Linked DNA regions of Homo sapiens. The protein of the gene in region 2 purifies or fractionates together with the protein of the main gene of each other region. This does not show direct contact. Each region holds a gene or a part of one and is shown on either strand. Other genes may lie near its edges.

Region 1 (4,614 bases), on a different chromosome or scaffold from region 2:
ATAAAACCCACTGATCAAAATAGATGCTATAATCTTTACCACAAATGAATAATTAACCCTGTGCTCAAACTGCTACAAAAATATGAGATTCAAATGTTGGAGCCAATGAAGTTTGTATAAAGGAGAGTTTCTGCCAGTGGGATGTGGCAGTGCCACCCTCCTTATATCTTGGCTGTCAGTCTTTTGGCTTGGTCCCGCAGCTCCATTGTTGCGATTGCTGAAAGATGAACTTCGTCAGGTCCATCTGCTAAACGCAAAACTCGGGTTATAGCATACCTGAAAAAGCAAAAGAATCAGGGAACACAGGGAGTTATGGAAGAGGAACATGATACTTTGACATCAGTCACTCTGATTGTCAACCAAGACTATATTAATTCTTAAATTCCACCAAGGTCAGGGTAAGAAAAAGGGTACCAGGAAAATAAGCTAAAGGGCTTCTGCAATGCCATCTTAAAGTTTCCAACTTGGGAAAGTTAAATGCCAAAGTACAGTGGAGTTCATCTCATTCTTGGTTTGCTACAGTTTACTACATGTTGCTAGAACTTAGAACAGGCAGTGACTGGTATGATACTATATATTTAGTTCTTTCTTAAGGTTTAAAATTGATGAAGGATGAGACTCTATCTCCATTGTGATAGAGAAGGTGACACTGTAATTATGTGTGGAGATGGACAGATGGGGAATGGAGAATGTTCCTTTCTGCCTCCCAGTCATCAGGATCTATATATTAGATAGTCACTGACATGTCCTGCTACAAATTCAGCGAAACCCCATGCTGTATCTACAGCCCAGGAATCCTCAGTGGGACCCCTCAGTGTAAAAATTAACATAATGGAATGAAATGATTATTGTAATAATAAGAGCAACTATTTCTTGGTGTTGAGCTCTATATTAATGTATATCACTTCATTTAGCCTTCAATTACACTGAAAATAAACATAAGCAATTAATGTCAAGGCATCTGTAGATTTTTTACCTCCACGCCTATCAAACGTAGATGATTCTTAAATGACATCTACTCACATGTTAGCCAGAGGGTAATCCTGGGAAACACCAGCACCTCCGCACACCTGGATGGCCCAGTCAACGATTTTGCTGACAGCCCGTGGGGCAGCCACTTTGATCATTGCAATCTATATAAGCAAAATATGAAAAGAATGCTTCTTTCTTAGACTATACACAATGTGGCAAAACTGGGAAATGAAACAAGGAAACTTTCCCACATCCAAGTCACCACTAAAACAGGATCTTTAACAAAAGCCAACAAAGAGATCCTGCTGCAATGCCATATTTCAGTCAATACAGACCCTCTGGAAAGAGACACCTCTTCCAAATCACATTTTATCCATTTATTTCTAACTTGTCTTGTTTCCAAAAGGATTTCAGGCAGCTGATAAATCACACTCATCACCTTAGGGATCATAAAAATAGTCCAAGGGTCTTTGCGCTATTAATCAGGTTTCTTTTAGCAGTTTTATGGGCTTTTAGAATTAAATGATTATGTCTTTATTTCATATAATCCAGAAACATAAGAAAGCAAAGGATGAGAGGTCTCTTTCATGAAACATTTACTATGTAGCAGTATCATGCTGTGCATTTTTTGTTTTGTTATTTGAGACAGGCTCTCACTCTGTCACCCAGAATAGAGTGGAGTGGCTATTCCCAGGTGTGATCATAGCTCACTACTGCTGCCTCAGAATCCTGGGCTCAAGCAATCCCCCTGCCTCAGCCTCCCTGGGACTACAGGTACAAGTTACCATGTCGGCTAATTTTTTTTTTAAGAGACAGGGTCTCACTATGTTGCCCAGGCTGGTCTCGAATCCCTGGCCTCAAACAATTCTCCCACCTCCACTTCCCAAGTAGCTTGGATTACAGGCGAGAGCCACTGTACGTGGCTTCTGCACATTCTATGTACATCATCTTGGTTACTCTTCACAACAACCCTAGGCCTTAGGCAGAAAAGTTAAGTACTTTGCCCGTGATCACAAGGCTAGAAGAAAGTGGCAGAGTGGGTGCAGTTCCAGGGCTGTGTAAAGCCTATGATTTCCCCCATTCCTTGTTGCTGTATCTTAAGAATGCTGAAGATATTCTCCCTCCTGAAAATCATTCCCTAAAGCACTTGCTAGGAGACTAGCAAGTGACAGGCATTTATAATTTATAACCCAAAATCACATGGGGGCTTCCAATATTCTGAGTGCCATCAAGATGCCATGAAAACTGAAATGTCCAACAGGTGAGAGAACTGGAGAAGGCTCAGCAGTTGGTGGTCTGAGGGGAGAAGGTAGCCTCACCTCTTTCTTAGCGCCAGCACTGCCCAGAGTGTCCATGCTGTGAGCAGCTTTCAGAGTCAACAAGCGGATCTTCTCAATGGCAATGCGGCTTTCAGCAATCCAGTGAGCCACAACCTCCTATAGGGGAGGAAAAGGCAGCAAAAGAAGGAGGAGCTAAGCTGGTATCTGATGTCCACGTGTAACACAGTCTTATAGTTTGGTGAAAACACTCTCTAAGCCAGAGATTGTTCACAAGCTTTACTCTATGTATTTTTAAATGGAAGAGTTAATTCATTTGATATACACCAGCCTAACCACATACTTGTGGAATGCTTACAGTTAAAATTGAAATATTTTAGAAAGAAATTTTATTTTCCCAGAAAAATCATTTATTTTGGATATCTTAATGTCTAAGGTAAAGATGGCTGAACTGAGCAACTGCCTTACCGCCAAACCACTCAAAGGCCCTCCTGAATGCTAATTGCCTGCTGTCATGGAAACTTGGCTAAATGTATGGTAGTGAAGCTGCTTACAGGTAAACTAGAAAATTCTCAGCACAATTTCAGTGTGGGGACAGTTCAGCAGCAATTTGCTGTGTTGTTATTGTTATTTATTCATTAAAAATGACCTTTTCTTTAGTAGACAGTTGAATTATAATACATGTATAGATTGGAATAACCACAGTCAAGAACACAGAACAGTTCCATCTCCCACAGAACTCCCTGGTGCTGCCCCTTTTTAGTCACAGGCTCCTCTCACTCCTAACTTCTGGCAACCATTGATAGGTTCTCCATCACTATAGTTTTGCCTTTTCCAGAATGTCATGTAAATAGAATCATATAGCATGTATTGTTTTGAGACCAACTTCTTTCATTCAGTTTAATGCCTTTGAGTTTCATCCAAATTGTTCTGTGTATTGACTGTTCATTCCTTTTTATTGCTGAGTAGTATTCCATTGTAAGTATGTATCAGTTGGTTTATCCATTTGCCTGTTGAAGGACATTTCGGTTGTTGCCAGTTTTTAAATTTTATTTATTTATTTTTTGAGACAGACTGGCTCTGTCGCCCAGGCTGGAGTGCAGTGGCGCCATCTCAGATCACTGCAACCTCCACCTTCTGGGTTCAAGCGATTCTCCTGCCTCAGCCTCTGAGTAGCTGGGACTACAGGCGCCCATCACCATGCCTGGCTAATTTTTGTATTTTTTAGTAGAGACAGGGTTTCACCATATTGGCCAGGCTGGTCTTGAACTCCTGACCTTGTGATCTGCCTGCCTCGGCCTCCCAAAGTGCTGGGATTACAGGCGTGAGCCATCGCGAGATTATTCATAGAGTTTCTGTGTATTTGTATACGGGTTTTTGTGTGGACATGTTTTCATTTTTTAAAGCAGATAGCAGGAGTAGAATTGTTGGGTCAGTGGTAAATGTTTATTAAGAAGCTGACAGTTTTCTAGAGTGGTTGTACATTTTGCATTCCTACTAGCAGTGTATGAGAGTTCCAGTTGCTCCTCAAACCATCAGCACTTAGTATCATATTTTATTTTAGTCATTTTAAGTGTGCAGAGATATCATGGTTTTAATTTGCATTTCTGTAATGGCTACTGCTGTTGATCCCCTTCAATGTACTGATTTGCCATCTCTATACCTCTTTGGTGATATGTCTGTTAAAGTCTTTTGTCCATTTTTTAATTGGGTTGTTTTCTTACTATTTGATTTAGAGAGTCCTTCATATATTCAGGACGCTAGTCATTTGCCACATGAGAAATCTGTCAATTCTTTCTTTTATGAGCCTTGCTTTTGGTGCATGTTTAGGAACATTTTACCTAATCCCAGAAAATGATTTTTCCACTATGTTTTCTTCTAAAAGTTTACAGCTTTACCTTTTACATTTAGATCTATGATCCATTTAGAGTTAAAATTTTGTGTGAGGTGTGTGGTTTAGATCAAGGGTCCCTCTTTTGCCTATCTATGTCCAATTGCTGCAACACCATTTACTGTAAAGATGTAACCTTTTCCATTGAACTGCCTTTGCACCTATGTAAAAAATTAATTGGCCTATATTTCTATGAATCTATTCCTGGACTCTCTCTTCTGCTCCAAAGATCTACATGCCTTTTGCTCACTGATTACTGTAGTTTAGAGTAAGTCTTAAGATTAGGTAGTGTGATTCACTGAGCTTTCTTCTTTTTCAAATTGTTTTGGCTACTTTAGTGTTTTTGTATTTCCATATAAATTTTAGGATCAGTCTGTCTTTATCTACAAAATTGTCCTTTTGGGACTGTGATTGGAACTGCCTTAAGTCTGCAGATCAATTTGAGGATGGTTAACATCTTTAATCTGTTAGTCT
Region 2 (4,379 bases):
TGATTACAACTTTTTCTTTAATGTTAAAATTAAGAGTTGAAGGTTTTTCAGAACACTTGCCTTATAAGGCTGCTGAGGCCCTTGGGCTTGGCCCATCACCTTCAGCAGATTGGGGCCAGGGAGAGGAGGAAAGAAAGGAAGGAAAAGTAAGACTTGTACTTTGGGGTTTGAAGTCAGAAAGTTTAGAAGTTGCAAGATTCTGCTACATGTTTTCCCCAATATTTTGGGAGAGTAGTCCTCAATGTGTAACTATATGTCCAGTTTTTTTTTAATAACCAGAGGTTAAGAGAAGTAAGCATTTTAACCTGAAGTTCAAACTAAACTCCCTCAGGAGGGCATACAATGGGCAAAGTCTGGTTGAAAAACTTTTCTCCCATCTCTTTTCTGAAGGACTTAAGTTTTCCTAATCTTCTCCCTTCTCCACCCTCATCTTTCTTTAAAATGCCTGAGAATCCATCAATCTGGCCCTTTTGTGGGTGAGGAGCCTGGGTTTCTTGAGCCTAGTTGGGGAAGGACCACACTCAAATTACTGAGATACATTTTTAAAGATCCACTTCAATTTCCCAAGACGACTACTCTGAGGGCATATTGATAAATCTTTATTGACAAAATATTGACATTGACATACTTCTTGGAAGTATATAGTGTGTTAGAATTCTAACAAATTAACACAAAACACAAAAATATTTACATTCTGGTATAGAAGACATTAAGGAAGCATTTGTCACTCTCTTTAGTAAGTCTATGATCTTGGAATAGAAACTCAGTGCTTGAAAACTTGCCGCCGTGCGCTTGGCCACACTTAACATCATCCCCGCTAACTACAGTCCTTCAGGTTTTGCAATAGATAGATTTAAAGTTTGGAATAGGCATTGCAGTGAATGGTTGAACTCGGCCAATTTCTCCAACCACTGAAAGGAGAAGTTTGCATCAGGGTTTTAAGCCTCAGGATGTTAGGAAAGGGAATGTCCAAGAAATATAATTAATTTAGGGGTTTTTTTCCCAGTACAAGTCCTGATTCTTTTTGTGGGCACCCTCCCCCGCCACCCCCAGCCCCCCCGTCGTCCTGCTCCCCGTTTCTCTGTAAGAGGACCACTATCGCTGAGCCTACTTCATTTAGCTTGCACAATCACTTTGACATCAGAAGGTATCAAAAAGTGTTTACAGACTGCACATTTCTTGGGAAAAAAAATCAAAATAAAAAGCACACAGAACCTGTCTTTAAAAGGAAAAGAAAATTACAATTCATTTTCGGTCTTTAAACACCATTCGCCCAACAACTGCTACATGCATTTCAAGGATTTGAAACAGGTGTGGGATGGGGCTAGATATGGAATTTTTGTTTTTTATTACTAATTATTTTTAAAGATGGGGGGGAAACACAGCGAAGTGCAAAAAACAAAAAAGTCCTGTGCCTGGTTGGGTCGTGGTTTTTATCATCATCATCATTTTTTAAGTGGACTGTGATAAACGGAATACCTGCCAATCATCTTGTCTCCCCGGTTTGGTGTTTGATTGACAGCTCCCCTTGTCAGAGTGCACGTTCAGCTTTCTCTCTCTCTCTCTCTCTCTCTCTTTCTCTCTCTTTCTCTCTCTCCCTCCCTCTTTCTCCTTCTCTCTGTGTCTCTCACTCAGCTGCCTCTTTAGACGAGGGTCGCTTGTTGATGAAGGAGCCTCCATCCTCTGCCATCTTGGCGCGGCCTCGGTTTGGGACCCTGTGCCCTCGCTGTCCAGAGTCTTCGCCGCATTCCGCTGCTCCCTCCGATTCCCTCTCCCTTTCTCGGTGAACGTGTATGCGGTTTGTTTTTGTTTTGTAGGGTTTTTTCCTTCTCCACCTCTCCCTGTCTCTTTTGCTCCATGTTGTCCGTTTCTGTGGGGTTAGGTTTATGTTTTTAATCATCTGAGGTCACGTCTATTTCCTCCGGACTCGCCTGCTTGGTGGCGATTCTCCACCGGTTAATATGGTGCGTCCCTTTTTTCTTTTGTTGCGAATCTGAGCCTTCTTCCTCCAGCTTCTGCCTTTTGAACTTTGTTCTTCGGTTCTGAAACCATACTTTTACCTGCGGGTGAGAGGCAGATGGGGTGCGTTAGTTCTTTCAGAGCACCCTTCTATCAAGTGCCTGATCCTTTCACCCAGCCCAGACTCCAGTTCCAGACTCAGCAAAGACCCAGCCCCCGAGATGCAAGTCCTAAGGTCCAGCCTCCCCAAGGCCTGCCCTCAGGGAGCAGGGCCGCTAGTGCGTGGTGGAACAGAAGCCCAGCTCCCTGCCCTTCTGAGGCTTCCTGAAGAGCCTTTCCCCAGGGCCCTGTGGCCCGGAGTGCACTGAGCCCCATCTCTCCTGGCCCTGCAGAGGGCATCTATATCCCGCTGAGAGCAAAGCCTTGCAAAGCATGGGAAGCCCCTACAAAAATAATAAGTGATTAAAAGAAAAAGAGACATGTCCCTAACTCCCTCCAGCAAGCGAGTGCAAGAGAGACCTCAGTCCGCCGCTGCTGCAGCTCCCCTCAGGGCCCAATGTGCTTTCTATTTTCTGCTGGTCTGGGCGGCGTTTCCTAAATATAGCGTCTCCTCTTCGTGGCGGGGGCCCTGGGTAGGCGATCAGGGTTTGCCTGAGCTGCATCCTCCGTGCGGGGGACTCTCACAGGTGAGCAGGAAGGGGATGGGGCTGGAGGAGGCCAGGAGGGACATGGAGTGTGTAGGCCTCCAGACCAACCCAGCTGTACCTTTATAGCTAGGAAAATGAGTTCAAAACTGAAAGCTTCTGAAAGACCGTGGGTTACACGGAAAGTAAGAGAAACTAAGAGAAGGGGAGGTGACAGCAAGCCCCCTCTTCCCTCCTTCTAAACAGCCCCGGAACAGGCTGCTGGTCACACAACCTCGGACCCCAGTCCCATCACTTCCCACCAGGGTGGGGCTGGAGGCCCGGCCTCACCAGAGCGGCTGTGAGAGGTCTCAGGAGCAATGAGGTGGGAGTCGGCTGCCATCCCACGGCCCCCTAGGAAAGCTGAGTCGTGGGTCCTCATTTAGCCACCAGACAGTAACACAGTCCAATCTTCACAGCAGTGGTGTACAGGTAAGGGAGATGGCAGTGACTGCACCTCTGATACCCTCCCCCCACAACTCCTATTCTATCTGGATAAGAGTACCCCACAGCCCAGTGCCAGTCCCTGGACCCCTGGGATCCATTCCATTCCCTCCTTTGAGGCCGCAGGCCGGTCCGTCTTGCTCTCCCGGAAAGCCACAGTCGCCCAAAGTGCTCCATGAAAAAAGCTGAGCGGGAACAAGGCTGAATTTAATTTGCTTTGAGTTTGCTAATTGAGGGGGAGGACGGTTCATTTCTCCCCGGCGCTGGCCCAAGGCGCGCGTCGGTGCGCTCGGGGCTTGACACGCACACAAAGACTCCAGGCAGCGTGGGCAGCGAGGCGGACAAAGACCACCGCCGCCTCGGCTGTCCAGGAGAAATCAGCCGGGCCGCGCCTTGTGCCGGGCTCCGCACAAACCCGCCAGGCCCTCCTCGGTTTTGGGGTGGGGAACATGTTTTAAAACAAAAGCCTCGACCTTTCTGAGCTGCCCAGGAAAAGTGTTACAACTTAGTCTGCCCAAAAAAACGTTACTGTTTGCTGGGAACTTTGACCCCGCCCTGCGGCTCCGTGTACAGTAGCGCCTAGTGTAGTCCTAAACCCCCTCCCCACCCTGGGATAAACCCAAGCCAGGCCCGCCCAGGGACCCTGCTGTGCAGAAGGCCTGTGCCCTGAGGCAGACCCTCTCTGCAGCCTCCCAACTTTACTTCTCTGATATAGGGTACACACAGGACGCTTGCCCTCTACCTTCCCATCGCCCATCTCCTTCAGGGAAGTCACTGGAGCCGACGGTGTGAGCCGTGGGCTCACAGTCGCTCAGAACTCATCTTTAACCCACATCCTGTCCTTACCAGCCTCCAGCTCCAAACACCCAGAAACCCCACTGTGCTCTCCCTCTTCCTGGACCCCAGCAGGGGTCTTCACACTCTCATCAAAAGTCTCACCAGAAATGCAGGGATGTCTTAGCCAGGACATGCCCAACTGGACAGAGAAACAACTCGGCGCGTTTCCCCAGAACCTGGGGCAGATTGGCACTTACAGCCCCTTTCTGGAGCCCAACAAAGCCAGCACCTTGAGACATACATCCCGAGCCCAGGCGTGGAACCAGCTACCAGGACCTGTGCGGAAGGCCCTCACAGAGCTCCGTGCTCATGGGTGTGCTTGGGAGCCAGCTTTGGGGAGGGGGCGCACGCCTAGATGGGTTCCTCGCGCCCGGGCCGCAGTCACCTGAGTTTCCGTGAGGCTGAGGCTGTGTGCCAGCTGCTTCCTTTCGGCGCCCACCACGTAGTGATTCTTCT
Region 3 (4,448 bases), on a different chromosome or scaffold from region 2:
CTTGTTCTAGCCTTGAGAAGTAGTGGATGAGCTATGAAAAGACAGCTTTTAAAAATAAATGAAATCCTAGTGATAATTTGATCCACTCTCAGACTAACTATGAAAGTTGACTAAGATCAAACAGAGCTAGTGGCAGATCTGGGACTGGAATTAGCCCTCCATGTCCCCAGCTCCAGTACTTTTCTTACTACATGAGATAGTCTTGCCAGTGACCATCACTGCAAGGCAAAGTAAAGTTCTGTAACAAAGACCTAGAACAGAAATAGAAGATACATGGTATACATGCCATGACATTTCCTTCCAGTGCACAGAAGAGATGTCACTAGCCATATGACATTCTTCCCATTGGGTGCGAATAGGCCCTCAGGCAGCCACTACCAACCAGTCAGAGTCAGCACTCAAGAGGAAACCCATCTACCATTCCTCTTCCAGAGGAAATAAAGGTTTCATCAGTCAAGGAACTCTGGCCTCGACCTGTCTTCTCCAGATGAGCTGAAAACTCCAGCAGGAACCTCACACTCTTTATTGCTCTTCACTGTGCCCACATCCACAAAGGACTTAAAAGTGATGTCTGTAAGCAGGTTTTCCACAGCATGGGTCTGCCAGACAGAGCAGGTGCAGGATTAGTCATGACTCCAAGCCAGGCAAGGTGATTAAGAAAAGCTAAATTTATATTAAATTATCATAAAGTCCTAAAATACTGAACATAGTGGTTAAATAACTCCAGAAAGTCCAATCTCTCCAGTGAGTAACGTTAAAACCATTACACATGAGCATGGGAGAATCGCTTCCATTAGTTTAGGACAGAGAGATTTTGCTTTTTACAGAGTAAATCAGTGCTCAAATAGATACTTCCTCAAATATGTCCTTTCTACATTCTGAACAGCCCAAGTGCAATAAGATCCTTCCCCCTTTCCAATCAAGAAAATGCCACTTTTCTACTTGCTCTTCCTCCCCAGACGTGAGTCTAAGGACCCAAAGTGCTCACTCCTTTACTGCTTGTTAAGTGTAATGTGGGGAGGCTCAGAACTGGGGCTGACGCTACTGAGAGCAAGGCTAAGGGCCTGGTATCTCTCTCTAGCAGTCTTAGAACTGACTAGAAAAGAATTGATCTTGTCCTTTTTCACTTTGGTAGCTGATTTCTCAATACCAGTAACCACAGGAGAAGTTTCAACTCAGGAAACTTCCCCTAGAAATTCTCCCCTCCATTCCCAGCCCCTGTTGTTCTCTCCTGCCACTTCTAATTCCTGGGGGAGAAGAGGTCTGGGTCTGCCATGGGCTAGGAGGGCCTCATCAGTGGTGCTCTCTACCTTCCTACTCCTTACCCACCTCTTTGTATTTTTATTTATTCAGCCCTCCCACCACAGGACTTTGGAGATTGCTGGTGCCACAAGGCTTGGTCAGAAAAAGCAAATTAGGCAAAAAAACAAACAAAAAAACCCCACGAAGAACAGCTAGGGAGACGTTTTAGGGCAAAAATAAGTCTCAATTTCCCTGATACCAGGCTGAGACACGTGCCCTTTGTGTGAATGAGCATGAACCAAGTGATGGCATCCCACATGGAAACTAAGCCCCTTAGCTGAGGGGACAGCTGGAAGAGGAACATCACCACCCCGTAGCCACAGGCTTGCTGTCCACTAACTTAGATCCCTGAGCACTTGAGAAAGAACATAGGAAGTTCAACAGGAAGTTTGACCCTCATGGATACTTCTCTTTAGGCCCTGGGTTTCCCAAGTCTCCAACCTGATCGTTCTTTCTGACCATTTATGACAACTTCTGGTTTTTCTTTGAAAGCTTGTTTCTAGGTCTCTTCCCCAGAATCCCAGGACATGAGGGAGAGAGGGGTCAGGAGGTATACCATATTTGGTCTAGGCAGAGCTTCTTAGACTTTTCAGAGACTCAGCCCCCAAGGCCTAACATTCACTCAAGCCACTGGCTCACAACCTGGTTAATTTGAGCAAAGACTTAGGAAAGGTACTGGCCAGTGGTGGCACCAGGAGGGAATTCCTATTAGCCAGTAGCCTTGTGATAGGGGACCCAGTTATCTGAATGTAGAAACAGCTCCAGACATTCTAGGAGGAGGAAGAACAGCCTGAGCCACCCCCATCTCACCAGTATCTGCTGCTGAAAAGGCAGTGTCTCTTAGGGCAAGAATAATGTCCACTGCCAGCAATGGACCAGACACCCAGATCCAACTACCCCCCAAAGCTTTTTCATGTTACTAACACACTTGAGGCTGGAGGTTTCCCAGATGCCCATACCTGCTGGGCTGATTCTTCCTTCTTCTCTCAGCCTCTATCCTTCATCCCTGTCTTTACCCACACCCCCATGTCCCAGCCCCTGATGGGCAAGTTCTCTCAGAGAAGCAGTCATGCTGGCTGTGATGGGGCAGAGCGCAGTCCTGGGTCATCAGCTGCATCAGCACTGAGAAGCAGGCACTGAGGGTACTGGGGAAAGGGGAGGTGGAGCTCTACGCTGGTGAGGAATCACGAATAAGCAGTTTCAGGGGGCCCAGGATGGAGTACAAGATGTGAGGTTCATGGTAAAATCCAGGTCTAAATTCTCGTGATGTGCCATCATTTCTTGTGCACAGGTAGTTATGGACTCACGTGGTAAACAGCTCCGGTGAAGGCTTAGGAACAGTTATGGGGTGGGAGGAGGAGGAGGACAAGCACACAGAAGCGGGGCCTGCGGTGTAAGCGAGCACAAGGACTAGACGTCCATAAAGGAGAAGGAACAGGCAGGCAGGGAAGAGAATGTGGGCATTTAGACCTGGCTCTCTGAGGAGAGCTTGCGTTCATGTTTCCAGCCCGTGTCTGGCAGAGAGCCTCGTCTTTCTGGAGTGGCTGCAGTATGGACGCTGCTACACTCAGACTGCTCTTCCTGTAACAGCTGCTCCGTCTCTGTGTCATCCAGGGAGCCAGAGCTGGCCTGGATGGACACCGTGTCTGTCTTCATGCATACATGATCCCGGAGGAGGCCCCCCCGTGAGCTTCGCAGTTGCTTGAGGTCATCCCACTCAGCATCATCCCCAGACAGGAGGCAGATTCCCTCTACGATCTTGATCTTCTCCTTGGTGTAGTTATGGTCAGGCCCTCCCTAGGGTGGAGAGTGGGCAGATATGGTCAGTCAGTTGGCCTTCTACAAAGGATCCCATGGTAAACTGAAAAAGGAAGTGGATGGGGTAAGAGTAGGAGTGAAGCGCACAAAAATCCCACAAACAAATGGGGAAATGTGATTAAGACAAGTGTATGAGGCCTAGCCTAAAAGGGGAGAGGCAGCTGTGATAATTATTACCATTACCATACAGGAGGAGGGAAAACCATGGCTTCCGGTCCTGCAGCAGCCACTCACTGGCTTTGTCACCTTAGGCAAATTATTTCACATTTCTAAAACTCAGTCTCTTAAGACTCTGCAGTGTGAGGAGAGTAACAGTATCCACACCTCACAACCAACTGCTGTCACCTTAAATGAGATGATACATGGAATGCAGTTATCAGGGAGCTTGACACAAGATGCACTATAACATGTTAGCTATGTTACATTGTTACTGTGGTTTATTAATGGGACATCATGCTGATATAAATCATCAAAAGCAATTGGCAAGAGCAATTAAATGTACATTTATTCAGGATTTTAAGCTACTTCGGGTGCTAGTTTGTATCTCTTTTTTCTAATTTTGTTAAGGAGAAAACTTGGGAGGTAAGACAGGGGACTCTAGAAAATCCTCTTATCTGGCCGGGCGTGGTGGCTTACACCTGTAATCCCAGCACTTTGGGAGGCCCAGGCGGGCAGATCACTTGAGTTCAGGAGTTCGAGACTAGCCTGGCCAACATGGTGAAACCCCATCTCTACTAAAAATACAAAAATCAGCTGGGTTTGGTGGCGGGTGCCTGTAATCCCAGCTATTTGGGAGGCTGAGGCAGGAGAATCCCTTGAACTCCGGAGGCTGAGGTTACAGTGAGCCAAGATCATGCCACTGCACTCCAGCCTGGGTGACAGAGCAAGATTCCATTAAAAAAAAAAAAAGAAAGAAAGAAAGAAAAAAAACTAAAAAAAAGGAAATCTTCTTATCTGGGTCCTAAACGTCAATATAGTGGGGTCCTGCAACTTATAACCTTTTTTGGGAGGTTACTCTCGCTCTGCTGCCATGAGTCCTGGGACCATTCCCAAGCAAAACCTGGGACTCTTCCAGGCACAGCCTGGAGTTCTGCTCGGGCCTCTCCCTTTATGGCTTCTTCAAAGAGCAGCCTCACTCCTGGCTGCTGGGGTATACCAACCGACATACCACCACTGCTAGAAGAAAATGGATCATCTTGGGTTCTGTCCCTGGGATAGTATTCCTGCCAAGAGTTCTGCAACTGTGGCTGTGGCTCTATTTTTGTAACAATTCAATTCCACAGATATTTACTGAGCCCCTATGTTAAGCAGAAGACTGTGCTAGGTGC
Region 4 (3,908 bases), on a different chromosome or scaffold from region 2:
GCCTCCCGGGTTCACGCCATTCTCCTGCCTCAGCCTCCCGAGTAGCTGGGACTACAGGCGCCCACCACTACGCCCAGCTAATTTTTTGTATTTTTAGTAGAGACGGGGTTTCACCGTTTTAGCCGGGATGGTCTCGATCTCCTTACCTCGTGATCCGCCCGCCTCGGCCTCCCAAAGTGCTGGGATTACAGGCGTGAGCCACCGCGCCCGGCCTAAGCACATTTTTTTAAATGCTGAACATAATTAGGCATTAGGGAAATGCAACCAAAAGCCGGTACACGCTGAAAGTAACAACACTGGTAGTACCAAGTATTGGTGAGAAGAGAGAAAAACCAGAACTCTCCTAGGCTTTACTGGGAATGTTAAATGATACAACCACTTTCAAAGGCAATTTGGCAGATCCTTAAAAAGTTAAACTTACACCTTCCATATGACCCAGCCATTCTACTTCTATGTATCTATATACAAAAGAAATGAAGACATATGTCCATACAAAGATGTATATATATAAATATTCATAAAAACTTTATTTTCAATAGCAAAAATCTTGGTAACAACGTAAATGTTCATCAACAGGTAAATTTGTTCATCAACAAATCATGGTATACCTATACAAAAAAATGTTACTTACCAATAAAAGGGATGAACTATTGATACATACAATAACATAAATGAATCTCAAAATAATTGTACTGAGTGACAGGAGTCATACTACAAAGCATAGATGATGTATGGTTCCATGTATGTAAATTTCTTTAAAAATGCAAATTAATCTATAGTGACAGAAAGAAGATTGGTAGTTGCCTGAGCAGATCAGTGGTTGGGATGGGACGGGGAGAGGGAGAAGGAAGAGTGAGAAATTACAAAGATGCAAGAAGGAATTTGGGAGTATGATAGATAGGTTCATTATCTTGAATATAGCGATGGTTTGTTTCATGGAAAATGTGTCAGAACTTATTGTAGAGGTTAAATATGTGAAATGTATTCTGTGTCAATTAAAGTGTTCTTCAAATTAGAGGTGGAAGTGAGAACAAAACTCACAGATGTATACCTTTCAGTCCTGTGGATTAATTTTGCCCAAACCTGCTTTGGAAAACATGATCCCTAAATGAATGTGGCCTAACAGATATATCCTGGCTTGGTCAAATTTAAGTAAGAGCTGTAATATGAATGGTTCATGTAACTGTTAACTGTCAGTCAAAAACAGAGTCAGGATTAACCACTGTTCAGTCCAACTCATTAAAGAAATAATAAAGCAGGCAGCAGTCAGTGGTGGTATAAACAGTGACATAAGTGAGAGTACAAACCAGTGTAACTTTCTAGGGACCAATTTGGAAGAAGTCTCAAAATGTGCTCAACTTTTATCTCAACAGTACTATTGTTAGGAATTTTAAAAAATATATTAAGGATGTGAGCAAATATTTAGTATATCCAAAACAGCATAATATATATTATTAGCAATCTATTATTTGTTAATAGAAATAATTTTAATTACTCAAACTGTCTAAAATTAGATTCAATTATAGAAATCCAGCCACACAGTGGAATACTATGCACATCAAATTGATGACCTGGAAAGATCTTAAGGGAGGTTTTTCATAAGGGAAGAAATAAGCTACTGAAGGATATGATTAACTTGTAGTAAAATGCTTATAAATTTCTATTTGCATACACATAATAGGGAAGGATGTATATCACTATTAACAGCAGTGATTGCTGTGTGTTGGAATTGTGGGTGACTTCAATTTTTTTGGAGACTTTGCTGTAGTTTCCAAATTGCTGCCACAACGCAATTTTATTTTTAGGCAGAAAAAAATTAATGTATATGGAGGTTCTTTCTTAACTAAGGGGTGTGCTTGAGCTGTGTCTGAGCACATATGATTAGTTAGAGGACTCAGTGGTGTGTTGCGTAAGTTCCTTTGGTATTTTGTGTGTTTCAGAGGGAAAAGGAATGGAAAGAACAGCATAGCAAGCTTCAGATATTTGCCTCCTAGCTCAGTCCTAAAGTGCATTGCTGAGTCCCTGAACTTGTATCTCAGGCTTATGGAAAGATGAGAAGGAGCTGTCTTCATTACAAACTGTGTGAGACAGGGGGCATGCAGGGCTGTCTATGTGACAGTGACAGAAGCAGATCACTATTTCAGCTGCACATGAGACACAGGGTGGCTGCAGCTTTACTCTATAGGGTTTGCCCTTGGCTTTGTGTGCAGTGTCACCTGGGCACTAGTCCCCTGTTCAGCCTGGCAGTGGTGGTGGGCAGAGCCGGGCGGATGGAAGAGGGCTGGCTCCTGAAGCCCTGAGATGCTCCATAAGATCCCCTGAAACAATGGGCACAGACTTAGGTGAAGGCAGAGGCAATGGCAGGCACCCCAAACACTCCAAAACCAGCATAGCCTTCCCAGGCCCAAATTTCATGCATCTGCGGCCTCAGTTATTCTCAATGGCTCTGGAACTTTCAGCAAAGACTTTCACACACTATCCAGTGCACACGCTTTATTTTGGCATTCAAGCCACTGCACCAACTAGGTCACAGGGAATGTTAATTAAGGCAAGATAGGTAGAAGGAAAGGAGGGTATGTACAGCAATTGCTCCTCTTTACGGAGAAGAGAACCTGCCACAGAACAAGATGCAGTTGGTTTTGTGGTGCCTGATGAAGAAAAGAAAAGGGTGGTCTGCACAGAATCTTGGCTCCATTCTGCTGCACCGGGAATTCCTGACCACAGCAGTGGCTGCGGCAGCCTCTGTGCCTTCCTCATTGACCTCCACGAAGCACTTGTGGGCAACCTTGGACAGAGGCACATTCTTCTCAGTTGACATTCCAGAAAAGTCTGCCTTGGCTTCGTCAAAAGCATCGATCATTCCTAATCTTCGAAGGAAAGGCTCCAAGTCATAACTCTCCTCCAGCTTTAATCTGGGAAGGAAAACTTGAACCTTACTTTTTGTCAACTTTTCTGAATTTGTCCAGGCTTTGAATTTCTCATATGTAAGTGCTTTTTCCACCTAGGATAAGAAAGACTCAAACCTTAAAATTTAGATGACAATAGCCTGATACCCACACACCCATTTATTACCCCTCCCCCAATGACATGCAATTAGATGGTGAGTTCTGGTCCAAGAAAATCTACAGATATTTTCTTTTATAAACACACCAAGATTTTCTCCCAAATTTTCATCTTTTCACAGTTTTATGGAGACAAGTGTAAAAGAGCTAGTAAACACCTGAGACAGGCAGAAATTTTTAATAAAAACAATTTGTACCTAACTCCTTTCAAATGTTAAAAACATTTTTTAACAGTTTAGAAAATTCTAACCAATTCATTACATTAATCTTCATGCAATACATACTACTGTGAGTGGGAGAGATTGTTTGACAAAAGACAAAGAGCATGGCTCAGAACTCTGCTTCTGAGTCTAATGAGGGGACTATTCAGGGTTAAATCAGAGGGCAACTCAGAGTAAAAGAGAGGGAATTGTGTTTCATCTGAAGATGAAGGGAGGCATGAGAAGGGAGCATGAGACGAGAAATGGGGAATGCAAGAAGACTTCATCAGCATCCTTGTTTGTCCTCTGCCTGTCCTGGAGTTAGCTTCAAATTCTTCAAGATCCATCACTCTTTCTATTTATCAATAAGGTAGAAAGAAAAAAGGGAGAAAGGCCTTCCACTAGCATCTCCCCTTCCCTTTAACAACTGGAGCCCAGGTGGGTACTCCTCTCCAACGAGCATTGTTTTGATTTTGACTCTATTTCTAGACTCTCCTAATTTTCTCATAAGTGGCCACAACAGATGTCATCCCTGACTTAGGGCAGTAGCTTTCTGATTCCAAAGGGAAGCCAGGAAAATCAAGCAGCCCACCCTCAACATCCTGTGCATTGGTGTGCCAGAGCTGACCCCTATCAATTGTTAAAC

Evidence for each region.
Region 1: the proteins of EMX2 (region 2) and ACAD11 purify together in Homo sapiens (affinity purification with mass spectrometry; one large-scale study listed by BioGRID and IntAct). This does not show direct contact.
Region 3: the proteins of EMX2 (region 2) and LRP4 purify together in Homo sapiens (affinity purification with mass spectrometry; one large-scale study listed by BioGRID and IntAct). This does not show direct contact.
Region 4: the proteins of EMX2 (region 2) and SERPINB8 purify together in Homo sapiens (affinity purification with mass spectrometry; one large-scale study listed by BioGRID and IntAct). This does not show direct contact.

The regions. Positions count from the first base shown.
Region 1 is NC_000003.12:132,558,810-132,563,423, forward strand, and holds part of ACAD11 (acyl-CoA dehydrogenase family member 11), read right to left. Parts: intron 2,409-4,614; coding exon 2,292-2,408; intron 1,134-2,291; coding exon 1,024-1,133; intron 277-1,023; coding exon 162-276; 3' UTR 1-161. UniProt on the Homo sapiens protein: Acyl-CoA dehydrogenase, that exhibits maximal activity towards saturated C22-CoA.
Region 2 is NC_000010.11:117,545,746-117,550,124, reverse strand, and holds the end of EMX2 (homeobox protein EMX2), read right to left. Parts: coding exon 4,309-4,379; intron 2,061-4,308; coding exon 1,893-2,060; 3' UTR 579-1,892; downstream 1-578. UniProt on the Homo sapiens protein: Transcription factor, which in cooperation with EMX1, acts to generate the boundary between the roof and archipallium in the developing brain. May function in combination with OTX1/2 to specify cell fates in the developing central nervous system.
Region 3 is NC_000011.10:46,856,217-46,860,664, forward strand, and holds the end of LRP4 (low-density lipoprotein receptor-related protein 4 precursor), read right to left. Parts: intron 3,100-4,448; coding exon 2,767-3,099; 3' UTR 501-2,766; downstream 1-500. UniProt on the Homo sapiens protein: Mediates SOST-dependent inhibition of bone formation. Functions as a specific facilitator of SOST-mediated inhibition of Wnt signaling.
Region 4 is NC_000018.10:63,985,967-63,989,874, reverse strand, and holds the end of SERPINB8 (serpin B8), read right to left. Parts: intron 3,618-3,908; coding exon of another isoform or gene 3,609-3,617; exon of another isoform or gene 3,225-3,608; intron 3,002-3,224; coding exon 2,597-3,001; 3' UTR 501-2,596; downstream 1-500. UniProt on the Homo sapiens protein: Has an important role in epithelial desmosome-mediated cell-cell adhesion.